Regions from separate parts of the Homo sapiens genome. Here region 2 is linked to region 1. Evidence: fine-mapped expression QTL. A gene starts in region 1. The other region holds a variant in brackets. All regions are shown on one strand. Distances are from middle to middle.

What was found. PIP is the estimated chance that this variant, and not a neighbour inherited with it, causes the effect. A credible set is the group of variants that fine-mapping cannot tell apart.
Region 2: its variant is the best candidate, but not a certain one, in a credible set for the expression of TDRD7 in blood mononuclear cells (TOPMed, PIP 0.64).

What each region holds. Positions count from the first base shown.
Region 1 is chr9:97,408,457-97,417,051 of GRCh38, reverse strand. It overlaps TDRD7 (tudor domain containing 7), which reads right to left and starts at 4,956. Exons shown (of 17, transcript NM_014290.3): 1 at 4,814-4,956. RefSeq lists enhancers at 4,110-4,369, 3,974-4,473, 4,474-4,975 and silencers at 4,311-4,605, 4,690-4,899, 4,920-5,269.
Region 2 is chr9:97,470,962-97,479,556 of GRCh38, reverse strand. TDRD7 (tudor domain containing 7) reads right to left here. Exons shown (of 17, transcript NM_014290.3): 10 at 7,062-7,264; 11 at 5,931-6,065; 12 at 4,088-4,174; 13 at 984-1,118. Among named protein-coding and RNA genes, the nearest start is that of TMOD1, 26 kb to the left of the region's middle. The variant C/T (reference allele first, on the strand shown) is at 3,699.

The sequences.
Region 1 (8,595 bases):
TCACCTCCACAGTAAGGCCTTCTCTGGCCACCCTATTCAAAATCAAAACTGAGATGCCAGCTTCCCTGATTTTCTCCTTAGCACTTATCACCATCCAATATTCTTCTCCATTTAATGGTTTTATCTTTCTCCCCAACTTCAATGCAAGCTCCATGAAAGCAAGGATTTGTGTCTGTTTTGTTCATTGCTGAATCCCTAGTGCCTAGCCCACCGAGAGCTCAATAAATATTTGTTGAATGAATAAGAAATTCTCCATCCACCTACCACTCCTTTTCTCTCCTACTCACTAAAATACAGCATAACATAGGTGAGCTATTAAAGGCATAACTCTGAATCCAATTTAAGTTACTAAAAAATTATCTGCAAATGTTAACAATTCTTATAAACTGAATGAGACAGCCAATCGCAACACCAAACTGTGGTTGAGAATCATCAAGTAGATTATTTCTGAGCATGTCCACTCTGAGCCAGATTAGGCCCTGTCAGGGCCGCAGCATGATTGCAAGGAGCCCACACATCCTGACAAGCAGCAGGCACGGCTTGAATATTAGTAAATGTCTCACATGTACTTATAGTCCTGTTTTTCAGAGTGTGCAGATATTATTGGGATCCATAAACACAAACTGATATTAAATTCACAACAGCTTTTGGTAGTTATATGTTTAATTGACCAATGGATACTGCAAGCACAACTACTAGTGTATGAGGTTTCACGAAATTTTTCTAAAGCTACAAAAAATGGCCTCATACTTGAGGAGACTGAGAATCAACGCTTGACCACATGGTTGCAATCTGTAAATTAAGTTCCCTCCCCCTGCCTGCCTTTTTAAAGTATGCTATCTTTCATGGAGGACTATAACTCTCTATTTGCAAACAACTTTTTGAAGGGAAGGGGAATCCCTTGGAGTATAAGACTGTGGGTCTCCAAGCTGGTGAGAAGCAGTTAAATGCAGTAAAACCTGGAAGGCTAAATGTGATTGTATTCAAATGCACGACTTGCCAGTCTGATTTCAATTCCCACATTAGCAACATCACTTCAGGCAGTGAACGAAAAAGAAAGTGTAAGCTTTAAAAAAAATCGTCATTATTTTCTAAACTATATCACTTTGGAAATGCTCTGAGTTTTGTTACGTGGCTCATGATGACTTTTTTTTGAAACTTTCGGAAGATGGCAATTATACTCTCAAGGTATATAAGAATACTTTGTTCTAACTATAAAAATAAAGTTTAATATCTTAGACATCATCCATTAGAAGCATAAAAGAAAGTATATCATAGGAATTTCAACTGGAGTGCAGTGGCGCAATCTTGGCTCACTGCAACCTCCGCCTGCCGGGTTCAAGTGATTCTCCCGCCTCAGCCTCCTGAGTAGCTGAGACTATCTTTTTTATGCTTTCGTGCTTTCCTTTTTTTCTTCGCTTATACCCAGTTAATCTTAATTATCCAAGACACTAATAATGCACATGAGGTGGGGTGGGGAGTTGGGGAGTGATGACAATCTTTAGGGAAACAAAATTTAAATAATTTAAGTGGCCTAAAATAATTCTCACTCTACTTCAAAACTGCATTTTGTAAATTCACAGCTTTTCTCTTTACTATACCTGAAAATGGCCCAAGGAAGTCCTATTCTGAAGAACCTGGTTTTGGTGTATCCCAGATAAACGCCTTCTACCATTGATTGATCCTCCCTGGCTCAGTCATTTGCATGTTATCTGCTTCCTCTAACTACTGGTGTCAAAGGCCTTTAGCTGAGCTAGTCTGGCTTCCATCCTATGCCTTCTCTTTTCTAAGTTTCTTCTTGCTCAACTATTTCCAACTGTATGATTTGGCTCATCTTCCTTACTACATTTTTCATGTCATCAGTTTAAGTTGTCGAGTGGCACTAAATCTTAAAACAAATCAGAAGAATTATTAGGGTAAACTGAAAACACCAAGTAATCTCTCTTAGCTTCTTTTAGTTAGATGTTCAATTTTGAAGTATCTGGATATCTCTTTAGGGCATATACTTCTAATAACTAACTGCCCTTCTCCTTGAAGACACTATTTTAGCAACAGCGGGAACTTAAAGTCCCATAATGTCTGTGCTGACACATTTTAGGCATCGTCTAGGCTAACCCAAGCTCCTTATCTTACAAATCAATAAACTGAGCCTCAGAGGGAAAATTTTTTCCTAAGATCTTTACCCAATAAATGATTTCTCACCTTGCGACACTTTTAAATGCTCTTTTCTTTCTAATCATAGTCTGTTACCACTTCAATTACTCCTTCACCAACCGGTTTTTAAAGGAAAAAGATGATTAATACCCTCAGATGATGGTATACTTCCTTAAGAGTTTTTTTCAGGGAGTTATCTTTTTTATTCTTGTGATCTCAAGTTCCAAATTATTCGTGCATTTTAACTGCATACCACGAATGTACGTAAGTAAGGGATTTCCATAAGTCTACATACTAGACGAAAAAACCCTGAGATAATAAAGTGGCTTAGTAAGGAGTTTGTGTCTTAATCCTAGTTCCGCTACTGATTACCTGTGACAAGTCACTTCAGGTCTCTTTTTTTCACAAGGAAGATAAGAAAGGTGGGCAAGAGCCATGATTCTCAACTTTCCTTGGATTCACTGAAGGCTGAAATAAGGTCCAAATATGTAATGAAAACCGAGTTTGCTTACTCATGACAAAGCTGCACAGGCTAAAATGCCAAGCTTACTTTGAAGTCACACTGGGTAGCTTGCACTGATCAAGTTCTGATTGGCATATATACATGTCTTCAACTAAAAATTGCAAAATTAATTACTTTTAGTTTGAAAGACAAAACTGTAAACATATTTGGCTTACAGGGAAATAATGACAAGAATGAAGCTTTCAAAAGTACAGAGGTGGGAGTGGAGGGAGGAAAAAGCAGGTTTGGCACAAAGAAACAACAGTTCACGTAAATATAAAATTTCACCAAGGAACTTCTGTGAAAGTGTCCAGATGCAAAGCACTCTATGTCAAATCTCAATTCTTGAAAACAGCACTTGACAAACACAAATTAGGCACTCGGGGTTGGATTATATTTTTTCTTTATATTCACATTAAGTATCCAGCTAGATTATATTGCACAGAGAACTTAAAAGAGGGGTTCTGCAAGGAGTTTAAAATCTCTTGATGCACAATACAATAGTTCATTCAGCCATGTTCAACCTGTACACTTAAAAGGGCATTAGCAGGGGATTACACTTCATTTTCAATCTACAGAGACTGAAATCTGAAGGCACTGCCAACTGCTGCCTCACAGTCTCACCGTGCAACTACCAAAGACGGAGGCTGTGTGCCACCAAAGGGCCCTGGATTGGGGCACAGGAGATGTGAGTGCTAATCCAGCTGGCCCCAGGGGCAATTCCCTATACCCAGAACAGTACTTTGCACGTAACTGATGCTCAATGAATGTCAGCTGAGAGGAAATGCAAAAATATCCACCATGTGCCCATTTATATTATATAGTAAACACAAAGATCTTTGTGTCCCTGCCCTCAAAAAACTAAAATCCAATTATGTAAAACATGGACCGTTTGTTGGGAGGAAGAGAGTGAATACTGCTTGGCAATTATTATGAGGCAAAGGATATACAGTGGTTATCTTGGAAAAGCCTTGCAAAGTAAGCCAGGTACCTCTATTTGACACATAGAAAACCAGGCTAAGAGAAAGCATGTAATTTGTTCAAGATCACACAATTTGTAAAATGAGAAGCCCAGATTTCAATCCAGGTCTGCAAAGTTCACATTATTTGCAGTATGCAACACATTCATACACATCAAGGCAGCCCAGGACGAGACAGGGATTTGGGTCCAAGTTTTACTTCTGCTATTAAGCTGTTGCCTATCTCTCTAGAGAGAACATTTCTCTGCATTTTTTTCACCGGCACGATTGGAGAGCAGAGAGGTGTTGGTAGGAGGGTTAATGAACTAGATCTGTGGTTTTTTGGTTTGGTTTGGTTTGGATGGGCGGTGATCAGAATTCTTCTGGGCCAGGACTTGTTCTAATGTGGTTGTTTCCCTTCCCTGCTCTTAGAAATTATTTGAGAATGGTACCTTTAGCTATTAATGGAAATATACCTCTCAAGTGAATGGGAGCAGAAAGATATGCCGGCTCCAAGCTCCCTCCTAGCAAGCTGAAGCTGAGAGTCTGACCCTGCTGAGGGGATGCTACTGAAAGTTGAGAGACAACTTACTCACGGATCCATGTTTCCCTCCCAGCTGGGTGCTCTGTACCCACTGGGTGCTCCTCGTTTGAGAGAAATGGGGATGTGTGTCCTGCATTACTTAAGCGGCCTGCCTGGGGCTCGTCTCCAGATTATAGAGACCTTCAAGAGAAGTTCGTGGTGTAAAATACTTGGGTTCAAATAGGGGAGCGCGGACATCCCTCGCTGGGGGCGGCGGCTGCGGCCTGTCGCGCCGGTAGCGGGAACCACTTCCTGGTCCGCATCTCCCGCCCGCGTCCACACCCCGCTGCTGCATTTCCCCCACGGCGCAGAGCTTCCGAGGCGGCAGGAGGCTCCGTCCGACTCCCGCGTGAACGCCCGGCCCGGAGCAGGGTCCCTTCAGAGATTTAAAACACAACGCTCTGGAACTCCAACTCCCCCGGCGCCCAGCCCGGTTCCCAGGCGTCGGGGCGGGGGCAATCCCCTGCGGCTGCAGGGAAAAGGCCCCGAGCCTGTTGGAGCCCCCGGCCCTGGCCGCGGTCCCACCGGTGACCCAGGTGCGCCGCGCCCGCCCGAAATCTCGTCCGACGTCGCCCGGCACCTGTCGCGCCCGGAGCCCGCAGGACCTGCACTCACCTCGTTCCGGGGGCCCACGGCCCGTCCCCGCGTCTCTGGGCCCAGCTCCTGCCGCCGTCTCCGCCAGGGGCCCCGCCGCGGCCGCCGCCCACTTTCGGTTTCCCCGCACCACCGGAGCCGCCCCGCGGCTTGGGAATCACCTCAAGCCCCCGCCCCGCCCTGCTCGGCCCCGCCCCGCTTCGCCCCGCCCCGCTTCGAGGGCAGCCTGGCCTCGGCTCTGCGCACGCGCGGGCGCTCCGGCCGCGTCGGCCCACGCCGGCGTCCGCGCGTGGGAAGGGAAACCGTCGCCACCTAGCGGTTTCTGCGCGTGCCCACGCACCGGCCGGCGGCGGAAGACGCCTGCGGGGCGGGTGCGGGAGCGCCTCCTGGTGGACAACGCAGGTACGCGCGGGCCGAGCGAGCCGGGACTCAGCAGGGGGCGAGGGTGGCTCCTTCTATGGGGCTCACCCTCCTTCCAAACAGTTCAACTCCTGCACATTATTTTCTTCAACATCTGGAGCAGTTACTTTTTATTGCCCTAGACACACACTCTGTCCGCCCATATCCTTCAGGCCTTTCTCAAGCATTACCCTTTCAATGACGGTGGACACAGTCTCTAACATGTCAACCTCCTTCCTTGACTTTCCCTATCCCCATTCTCAACCTTATTTCTCCTTAGCACCTATCTAGCACACTATATGTATTTTACTTATGCTTTTATTGTCTGCTATCCTTCTAAAATTAAAGCTCTGTGAGCACAAGGATTTTTGTTTGGTTCCTTAACCTATTCCCAGAGCCTAGGATAGTGCCTAGCACACGATCAGCAATAAATATCTGTCAAATTTATTCATTCACTCTAAAGTTATTGAACACCTAATAAGTGAATACTTATTTATTCTGCACATTAATTCCACCAACACTTATTGGCACCTGCTTTGCATCCCTGCAGCCAACATTGAACACTTCTCTGCACCATTGGATATGCATTTACTGAGAACCTGCTGCTTATTCAACCGGTATTTTATTACAGCTTGACTGCCATGTATAAGACATACAATAAACTGAACGTTTAAAATGTACAGCTTGATAAATTATGCATTTACTGAGAACCTGCTGCTTATTCAACCGGTATTTTATTACAGCTTGACTGCCATGTATAAGACATACAATAAACTGAACGTTTAAAATGTACAGCTTGATAAATTATGCATTTACTGAGAACCTGCTGCTTATTCAACCGGTATTTTATTACAGCTTGACTGCCATGTATAAGACATACAATAAACTGAATGTTTAAAATGTACAGTTTGATAAGTTTTGATATATATATATCACTGTGAGACCATCACTGCAATCAAAATCATGAACATATCCATCACCCAAAAAAGTTTTACTGTGATCCTTTGTAATTCTTATATCTTGTCCCTCCCTGTCACTTGCCCCCTCAACTGCTCACCTGCTTTCTGTTGCTATAGATTATTTTGCTTTTTCTAGAGTTATATGTAAAACTTTTATGTATGGAATCGTATGTACTATCCTTTGGGGGGCTGCCTGGCTTCTTTTATTTAGCAAATTATGTTCATCCATGTTGTTACATGTATCAATAGTTCATGTCTTTCTATTGCTGAATGGTATTGTAGGGATGTACCAAACCTACCACGCAACCCAGCAATTCTGCTCCTGGGTATTTACCCAGGAGAAATGAAAGCAGATGTCCACACAAAAACCTGTACAAGAGTGCTCATGGCAGTTGTGTTGGCCGTAGCCCCACATGGAAAGAATACAAACATCCGTCAGAAGGTGAATGGACAATCAACTAATATATATTGAACACCTGCTGTTAAATAACAAATTTTCATGGATAAGCCTGTGCTTATAGAGCTTTTGATTCAGTGAAAAGATGCAGTAGGCAATACAAAGAAAAATTGGAAGTAAATCTGGAAAACCTGATATCCAGCTCTCAGACACTTGGATGTTTCCCCAAAGGCGGTAGGGAATTGTTCAGAGTTTTTGAACAGGGCTTTTCTTTGAACACTGTTCTCTTTCATATCCTAGATCTGGTCCCTGACTAAGTTTGCCTAAATGTCTCTCTCTGGAATTTCTCTGCATCTCCTTTGCTCTATTTCAGTCTATTTCAGATGTCTTTCTGTTCTTTCCCTTCCAGTCTACTCCAAACATTGCAGTGGATTTTTAATAGACTTTGCTATGGTCTGAATGTTTGTGTCCCTACAAAATTCATGTTGAAACCTAATCCCCATTCTTGCGGTGTTGAGAGGTGGGACCTTTGAGAAGTCATGATGGCTTCGTCCTTGTGAATAGAATTAGTGCCCTTAGGGGCTTAAGGGAGCCTTCTGCCCCTTCCACTGTGTAAGGATTCAGCAAGAAGGTGCCATCTTTGAAGAGGAGAGCAAGTCCTCACAGGATGCCAAATCTGCTGGCACCTTGATCTTAGACTTCCAAACCTCCAGAACTGTAAGAAAAAAATTTCTATTATTTATAAATTATCCAGTCTAAGATATTTTGTTATAGCAGCAGGAATGGACCAAGACAGACCTAAAAGACAACCAGCCCCAATTTGGTCTCTGCAGTACTCACAACATCCTGTGGCTCCACATTTTAGAAGGGAAAGATGTAAAAAGCAGCTGCCAAAGGAAAGAGTGCTAGTAGTAGCAGGAAATAAAAAAAAATTTCAGAGTCTAATATGTAGAATAAATCATAAAATAATGTGAGTTGAACCCAAGTTTGAGATCCTTTATCCTTGCAAAGATGTTCCATGTTTAGACTGCCCTATATGTAAAGAAAAATGAAGCTCTGCAGCTAGTTTTTTTTAAACCAGCTTTTTTGATAGTTGACATATAATACATATTTAAATGTACAGTGTGATGAGTTTTGACCAACGTCTTTAATTGTGTACCTACCACCACAATCAACATATGGGATTAGTTCATAATTCCAAAACTTCTCCTGTGCCCCTTTACAGTTAATTCTCTCCCCATACCTTTATCCACTAGCAGCTACTGATCTGATTTTTGTCATCATAGGTTTGCCTTTTCTAGCATATCATATAAGTGGAATCATGCAGGATGTCATCTTTTGTGTCTGGCTTCATCACTTAGCATGATGGTTTTGAAAGTCATCCATGTTGTTGCACATAGTGGTAGTCGGTTCCTTTTTAGTGCTGAATAGTAAGCCATTGCATGGCTTTATCACAATTTGTTTATTCATTCACATTTCATGCACATTTGTGTTGTTTCCAGTTTGGGCTGTTATAAATAAAGCTGTAATAACAGCCATATGCAGGTCTTTGTGTGGTGATGTGGTTTTTTGGCATAAAGACTTAAGTATAGAACATCTGGTTGTGGGATAGGTGTACGCTTAACGTTTTAAGAAACCGTCAAACTGTTTTCTAATGTGGCTGTGCCATTTTGTACTCCCACTTTTACTCTCTCCTTGGTAATGTGTAAGACTTCCAGTTGCTCTAAATCTTCTCCAATACTTGGTATTGCCTGTCTTTCTAATTTTAGCCATTCCAGTGGATGTATAGGGATAGCACACCGAGGTGTCAATTTGCATTTCCCCAGGACTAATGATGTTGAGCATCTCTTCATGTGTTTATTGGCCCTTCATATGTGTTCTTGGGTAAAGTGTCTGTTCTGCAGGTAGATTTTTGTCCAAGACATCAGGAGGTTCTCAGAATTGCCTGGGTATCTGACAGAGCAAGGGCAGATTAGAACGTTGTTTTTTTTGTTTGTTTGTCTTTGTGAAGTGGTCCAAGACCCAGGGAGTTCAAGAATTCACCCCCA
Region 2 (8,595 bases), 63 kb before region 1:
AAAGTTTAGTGATTGTTAATGCCGTAGCATACAGGTGGTACTGTTGTGGACTTTCAGACAATCACAGCGGTGGGACAGATTCCCAACTGCCCTCCAGCCCAGGGGATCTTTTCTAGGTAAGCCTGGCCCTGCATGGCTGTTCCAACAAGAGGTATTATTAAGTCAGAGTAGCACTTAAAGGCCCATCAATTTCCAGAATTATGGCTGAACAATGGACAGTAAAAATGATTTTGAAAAAAGCTTCTCTGTAATAGTCACGGCTAGAAAAAGCAATGGTGATGGGAGGGAGAGACATGTCAAAAGCCATGCTAATTATGGACAATGTTTTATTTACTGAGTTTGATGGCAGAAGATGTCTTCTTGAAAATATTAGTAACTGGGCATCTTGAAGTTGTAGAATACCGCATTGTTTTATTTTTTAAAAGATATTAATTTCTGCACAAAATCCTCTATTTCTCCTAAAGGTAGTGAGTAGTTCTAAACAATTCAAAATATTCAAAATCCTTATCATCTGAACATTCATGAATAAAGAAAGGATCAGCCGAAGTTCATCTTTTAATTAAAATGTATGGTGGGGAAGTCACCGAGAAAATGATTATGTCTAAACAGATTTCCAAAGAAAATGGTTACCTAAATAAACTAAAAACTCTAAAAATAAACATTTATACACAATATTCTGGAACTGTACATAAGTCAGTACTGGCATCTAATTATCAAAATGGAACCTGTAACTGGACAACACAGCTTAATGACTGGATGCTCTTGAAAACAAACATTTCTCAAACAACAGTATGTAAATATGACTGGTCTTCTTGTCTAAGTCAGCAATGTTTTACTTCTGAAAACCAGCAGACAACCACATTTGGACAATTTCCAATTTTCTTAAAAATTAATGAGATCAAAACTGAGAAGGCATCTTACAATAAGATTATGAACACATCCAAATCTGTTCCAGCAAATCTCCCAGGCTGGTAACATAGTACCTGAGGTGGTATTGCAATCATTTCTTGTAGAAACCGAGGTGGAATTTCCCTGAGCTCTGACACTTTTACAGATGTCACAGTGCCAGAGTCCAGGAACTGAACATCAAGAGCCCGGCTGCTGTGAACATTTGTGATCTGAAATGAGATAAGTGTTGGCTCATTTATTAGCATATTCAAAAGACCAAAATGCTTCTGTGCAATTACATTTTGTACAATCCTGAATGCATATTAAAAGGAACAGACTATCAGTGTTAAAATTTTCCCCTAATTTAAAATGTATTTATTTACTAAATATTATTATTATTATTATTTTGAGACAGAGTCTTGATCTGTCACCCAGGCTGGAGTGCAGTGGTGCAATCTCAGCTCGCTGCAACCTCCGCCTCCCAGGTTCAAGTGATTCTCCTGCCTCAGCCTCCCAAGTAGCTGGGATTACAGGTGCCCACCACCACAACCAGCTAATTTTTTTGTATTTTTTAGTAGAGATGGGGTTTCACCATGTTGGCCAGGCTGGTCTCAAACTCCTGACCTCAAAAGATCCACCCACCTTGGCCTCCCAAGTGCTACGATTACAGGTGTGAGCCACCGCGCCCAGCCTACTAAACATTGTTTTAGAGTAGAATTGCTTTCAACATCTAGTTAATCAGTAATAATCAGCAAACTGACAATAAACAGTAAAATAAGTATAGTAATATTTATTATTTCTCCAATTCTAGGACGTGATTTATTATAAAATGATTTGATACATTATTATATATTGCTGATTATAAGATACAGTCTGTTCTCCAAAATATTAAAATATAAGGGAAAAACTATTGTTTTGGGGTCAAAACAATAATTACCTTTGCAATTATTTGTATAACTATCAAGAATAAATACATGATTAAACATAGGATCTGCTTTTCACTAATTATTTTTCCTTCTCTGACTTTCCATACATCACTAAGAGAATGAGTACTCAAACCTTTTGTCTACCTTGAAGGTAGACAATATACAATTTGATAATAACAAAAATAATACTAGATATTTATCTAAAATATTTGGACATACACTAAGAAGGCTTCTTTCTGCCAAAAATGCATAACCTAAATTTAAACATGAAGATACTCAAATTGTGAGATACTTTACAACATAATGCTATTCTTCAAAAAGTCAGGAATAGCAAAGAAAGGCTGAGTAACTGCCAGGGTGGAGTATACTAAGAAGACATGACAACTAAAGACAATGTGGGATCCAGATTGTATGCTGGAGCAGAAAAAGTACTTTGTGGGACAATTTGGGAAATGTATGTTCTGTGGATTAACTAATGGTTTTGTATTAATGTCAATTTCCTGGCTTTGATAATTATGCAATGGTTATATAGATGTTAACATTTGAGAAGGTAAAAGGCCAATGAGACCTCTTTGTGCTATTTTTGCAACTTGTAAAAAAGGAAAATTATTTCAAAATAAAAAGTTGAAAAAGTTAGTATGCATACACTTATATATTTTAAATTAAATCACACAGAACTTTAAGATCTGAAGAATGCCATGACCTTTTCAACGAGTCATGTTTTTGAAGTTTATACCTAGGCACATACCCCTTGGTCATATGACCCGAGATTTCAGCCTTCTGACATACAGTCACATTAATAGCAATAATTACTTCAAAACTGCTACTCTCATTCAAGTAGACATGACCAAGTTTTATTTAAATAATGAAAAAAATCAATTCAATTAAGTTATCAAAATGTTGCTGTGCAGCATTTAAAAAATTCAGTAAAGCAACGATTCTTACCTTTTGGGGGTTGATTTGAGAATCTTACAAAATTATGCATACTTTTCCCCCAAAATATATAATACAAGCACACACACAATTTGCATACAATTCCAGGAGGGTTGAGGGACCCCCCTGAAAGTTGAGGTCCTTGCATCTAGGTTAAGAACCTCTGTATCAAAGAAAAAAAAGAAAAAAAAAATCAAGCCAATGTTTTTTTCTTAATTTTTTTTTGTTTAGTTTTTTTTTTTTTTCTTTTTGGTTTTGTAGAGATGGTATGTCACTATTGTGACCAGGCTGGTCTCAAACTCCTGACATCAAGTGATCCTCCCGCCTTGGCCTCCCAAAGTGCTGGGATTATAGGTGTGTGCCACCTCAAACTAGATGAAGAGAGGGAGGGAAAGCAATCACAAAAATCCAAAACTTGCCTTTTTAAAAACATATAGAAACGCAAGATAAACCACAACAAAACTCCCTTCAAGTTCGTAACTGAGCTTGCAAGAAAATAAGACAATTGTTAGTGACTAGAAATAGAAGAGTATGTGAACTTTAAAGCCAAAATTGTCTTGGGCAGGAGACATGGCCTTAGATCCAGGCAGGAGGCAGGGAGGATCTGACACTGCCCCATGAAGCCACAGTTCTTAAAGGGATATACTCTCAATGGAAGGCAACTTTGGAGAGCAATTAAGCAAGATCTAGTAAAATTGAAGATATGCATTCCCAATACCTAGAAACTCCATTCCTATGTATGTACCCTGGAAGACACAGACAGGAAGGTTCAAAAAATTAGGAACAATCTAAATATCCATCATCAGGAAGATGGAGTGATAACGTTGGCATATTAATAGTGTTCAATCATACAGCAGTAAAAATAGATGAACTACAGCTGCACACATCAACATGAATGAATCTCACAAACATAATGAATGAAAAAGCATGACCAATACCTCTTACAACTTA[C/T]ATAAAGTTTGAAAATATTTATTCATTTAGTTACACTTATTCATTTGCCTTTATATTATATACACATATTCATTAATATATTTCCACTATTTAAATATTAAAAATATATAGTAAAAGTGTGTATCTACAAGTACAAATACAGTAAGAATATAAACAAGTAAGAATGAGAAAAACACAAATGAAACTGGGGTGGAGGCAGAAGAAAGGAGATGTAAACTTTCTTCGACCATAACTTCAACCAGGAAATTTCAACCATACTGGTCATGTTTTATTTCATAAACTGATGATGAGTCTGTGAGTATTTATTCAATTTTTTAAAAAAACCTATGTGTATATTTGAAATATTTCACAATAAGTTAAGATTAAAAAGCCAAGTGACTGATTTTTACCTCTACTCGTAACCATTTTCCTTTGCAATGGAAGAGGCAGATTTTCCCACAGAAGGGTAATGAAACAAAGCACTCAGAGGTCATGTGCTGCAAAACAGAAATGCATGATACTCTTATTACTCTTAGCAAAGAGCATATTGCTACACCATTAGAAAAACAGATCGCTGTGGCACTGGCAGACTTAACCGACATGTAGTCAGACTTCCAGCAATGGATGCAGCAAACACACAGGGTTATAAAACTTTTGTCTTGTTACTCATACATTTGTTGACATCAGTAGTTTACTCTCCCTACATGCACATGGCTCATAAATCAGCATTGTTAACATGTCTAAAAACATTAGCATAAGATCATTATGATTCACTTAGGCACTGGCTCCATCAGTTACACATGAAGAGAGGTGTTGAATCTGACAAAAAGAAGAACAGTGAGGAGGTTGCGAGAGCTGTCTGTGGGCCTATTCTTTTCATTTTCATCTCTTCACATTTAGATGCAAAGATAACATTTTAATTCCAAAACAAAGAAATGTTATCAACACAAATATGTATGTCAGTGCCAGTTAAATACCAACAAATCACAGCTGTAAAGATGAAGTCTCCTCATCTTCCTCTTCTGCTGTAGTTTGAAGTTGGGGGTACCTGTCCATGGTCTCTTTCTGTTCAGGGTGTGTGTTTCTACTCTCCCCAAAGGCAATGTCTCACTTAGGTTACGAGTGCAGTAGGAAATATCGAGTCCTTTTCACCACCAAAGGTTATAAGGACAACATCCATACAAATGAGTCACTAGAGTCAGCCAAGCTGGGGGTTTCAGATTTTTCAAAGATAGACTTAAAATTAAACCTCTGTAACACAGAACAAGATAAAGCTATAGGAATGTCTCAATTCCAGACTGTACTTTGAATGCGGGTTTAAGCTGATTCGGCACATATTTTGGCATACCTATTCTACATAAGACACTAGATTAGATACTGTAAGGGATGCAGAAAATTGGTAAGGCACAGTCTATGCCCTCAAGAAGCATACGGTCTAGAAAGGCAAATAAGTACCCAAATAGCTAAAATATAAACCTGAATATGAATGCCCTGAGGTGCCTGATGTGCTTTGTGGGTTAGAGGGAAGAGTTCACTTCCAGGGACGAGGGGGTAAGGGCAGAAGTGGCAGTAGGGTTTAGTGATTTGGAAACCACAGCATATTCTGAAATATGACCATAATGTCCTAATGGAGGTAAGGAAACCATTTTAGGAACTTAAAGCACAATAAAACCTCTACAGAGCTCGATTCAGAAAAAAATAGTAGAATTAAAGGATAAGGAGCTTATTAATACAATTTGAACTGCAGAACCAAATTTATCAGGTGGCAGGTTCTCAGGGTCCATAAAGAGCTCAAGGAGTGATGGGTAAGGAGGAAGATGAAGGCAGAACTAAGGAGGAAAGTTTTATTATCCTCCTAAATTCCAAGGTTTCTCCTTGCCTAAGGCAGAAGAGTCAGCTGGCTCTAGCAGACAGTCACAGGCAGCTGCACTGTGGCATCATCAACTGCATGTTATAAATAACACATCTACCGATTGCTGTGCACTGACTACATGCCAGGCACAGTGTCCTCAGGACAATCCTATAGGGTACACACTATTGCTATCTTCGTTTTACATTGCAGAAACTAGTGTTGTGTTTTTCTTTTAAAGCTCTGAAGTCTGGAGCTCTTTACCTACTATTCTAGAGATTCCATTTCAGACTACTAAAAAATCGTTCATACAAAAAAAATTGTTCATACTTATGCAATTTAGTAAATTACTCTTGCTTGTAATTTTAGGGCTAATTTTAGAGGTAGAAGAGGTTCTGCTATACCTTGCAATGGAAGTAGTCCTCTATCTTACGTAGAAGGTCACTGAGCTTGTTCAGACCCTTACAAGGCACCTGGCAGTAGAGTGTCCCATCAGAGCAAATATTAGTTACTTTGACATTTGTGTACATGGCGTCAACCTATAACAGACAAAGGATACCTCGTGAATGCTTGAGAGCAGAATGCAGCTCTTACCTACCTAAAGGGTATCTACCTAAACATCCCATAACAAGTCTTTGCATTTTAAAATCTTTAAGTTAGAGTATATGTAAGATGAAATGCAATTTATAGCTTAAATGTACAAAACTAATTTGGATTCTTTTCTTTTTAAAAGAAATGTCTAATATCATTTATGCCAAGCACAAAATAGACATTGTGCATACATTCCCATACTCCATTGTCTGAAAGGCCAAGACTATCTTTAATGTTGGTTTATTTTCTCCCCATTTATTTAGAAAAAGAATTACATAAACCATGTTTTGTAACATTAACAGAAGTGAAAATAAACTCTCACAAAATCAAATCCATCATCAGTCTACTTTCTAACCTGTGTCCAGAGGTCATATGAATTTGAGTAATTTTAAAAAACCATAATCAAAGTAAATATTCAATTTTACCCATTTTTAGTCAAACCATAATAAAGACATTCACAGTGGTTCTACTTATTAAAACAGAAGTTTTCCCATTGTTTCTATGAAATCTTTAAAATGACCATTTTTAACATCTCATCCTATTCTCTTGGGTAGATATTCTATAATTTATTTAAAGGCTTCCTTCTTTTGGGGCATTTATGTTCTTCACATTAAAAAAAAGTTAAAGCTAATAATCAACATCTTCATGGACCCAATTTTCCCTTCTTTTGTGTTATTTTTCCTTATTATCTTTACAAAATAATCTCATATAAAATCAATAGATGCTCATTGCAGGAAATGGAAAATAAAAAATCCAGTTCCTAAGAAACAATTACTCTGAACATTTTGGTACTTTTTTCCCTTCTAGCCCCACTCCCTCCTTTTTTCCCCTCAATGTAAATGTAATCTGTCTCTATCAATTGTTAGCCTAAAATGTATAATATTCTGGTGATTTTTCTCTCATACAAAATGTGTAACAAGCAACAACAGTGATCACAGTGGTACCTGCAGGTGAACCTCTAGTGACTTGTCACATATAGCCTTCAAGCAGGTGGCATTGATATTGATATCATCTTCTCCTGAGGTATCGTACAGAACAACAAGTGGAATGTCAGCTTTGTCAAGTATTTCCACTGCAAAGATCTTTCCACAAGTTAAAGATTCAACCACCTTCACTAGATCAGGGTCATCGCTTAGGACTTCCAAGCCTGAAAAATATTGAATCTTTTAATTTCTACTTAATTAGAAAAATCATTTCAAGATGAATAGATGGATTGTGTCTGTTTTGACCATTATTAAAATTATAAGCCTACTGCAAAATTATTAAATTTTATATGAAAGCTTTGTTTTACAATCTTTATCTTACCTCTTAGGTTTTAAAAAAATATAATGTAAACGCCCTTTTGAATGATACACTAAGGCAGGCAATCTTAAAACAAGCAGAGAAACGGATAATCAATCAGAATTTCTACCTTGGGAGAAACAGTCTTCACTTTATACATGAACACATATTTAAAACCAAAAAACTAACACATATGAGAAGCCATCAATTATGTCTTCCAGTCATATGTTTGTAATGCACTTCCTACATATATACAATTATTTTTCTTATAAAATGAACACACATTTATTGGAAATTGAGACAACCACTATTGTTTCTTTTTTATTGACCCTTAGGATACCAAAGAACCTTCTGATTTATCAAAGACAGATTAAGTAGTGTTTAACACAGGTATTAGATGAATTTTGTTGTAGTCCAACTACTCTTTAAATTCTTAGAAAATTATAGTTCCACATAACATATATGACAATTCTAAGTTAATGTATTAAATGAATTAAAACTAGCTCATATTCCCCCAATGGTACTATAATGCCTATTTCCATATTTTTCTACTTTAAATCCACAAGCTAAAATTCAGACTCCTCCGAGTTTTTTCTTCTTCTTGTTCTGTTCTCCAGACATATAACTTTGAACTTTTCTCAAACATTTAATTTCAACACCCTAAATCCTGTCCTATGCCCTTGATACGTTCTTTCCAACACCAACTTCTAAAAGTTGTTAACAAGTTTTTAAAATTTCTTCAGGTTAATCTCACAGATAAGAGTCAAACCCAGCTCCTGTGACATAAGAATTCATCCCACTGGGAAGGAGGCATTTCTTCAGAGTACTAATTTTCATGAAATAATTATGATCATTTTCTGCATTTGGCTCAAGTCCCCCCCGGCATGGTGCATATTTCAATGCCTTTCCTTATCACGGACATGACCAATGTGTCATCTGTCCTTTAAGTTTATCCCTACATGGCACTCTCATACAGGTGGATTCCTCTGTTTCCTTTAGGAGGAAGGAAAAGAACAATGATACATCTACTATGCCAAAAACTGCATGTGACCTGTGATCAAACCCATGCTTGGGCACATGAAGGTGTGTCAGTCACACCCTCACAGCATCACCACAGTACATCTCAGTGGGAAAGGGGCTGAGAGTCACCTCACAACATGCTGAACAACATATTGAAACTCATCAAATGTCATGAAA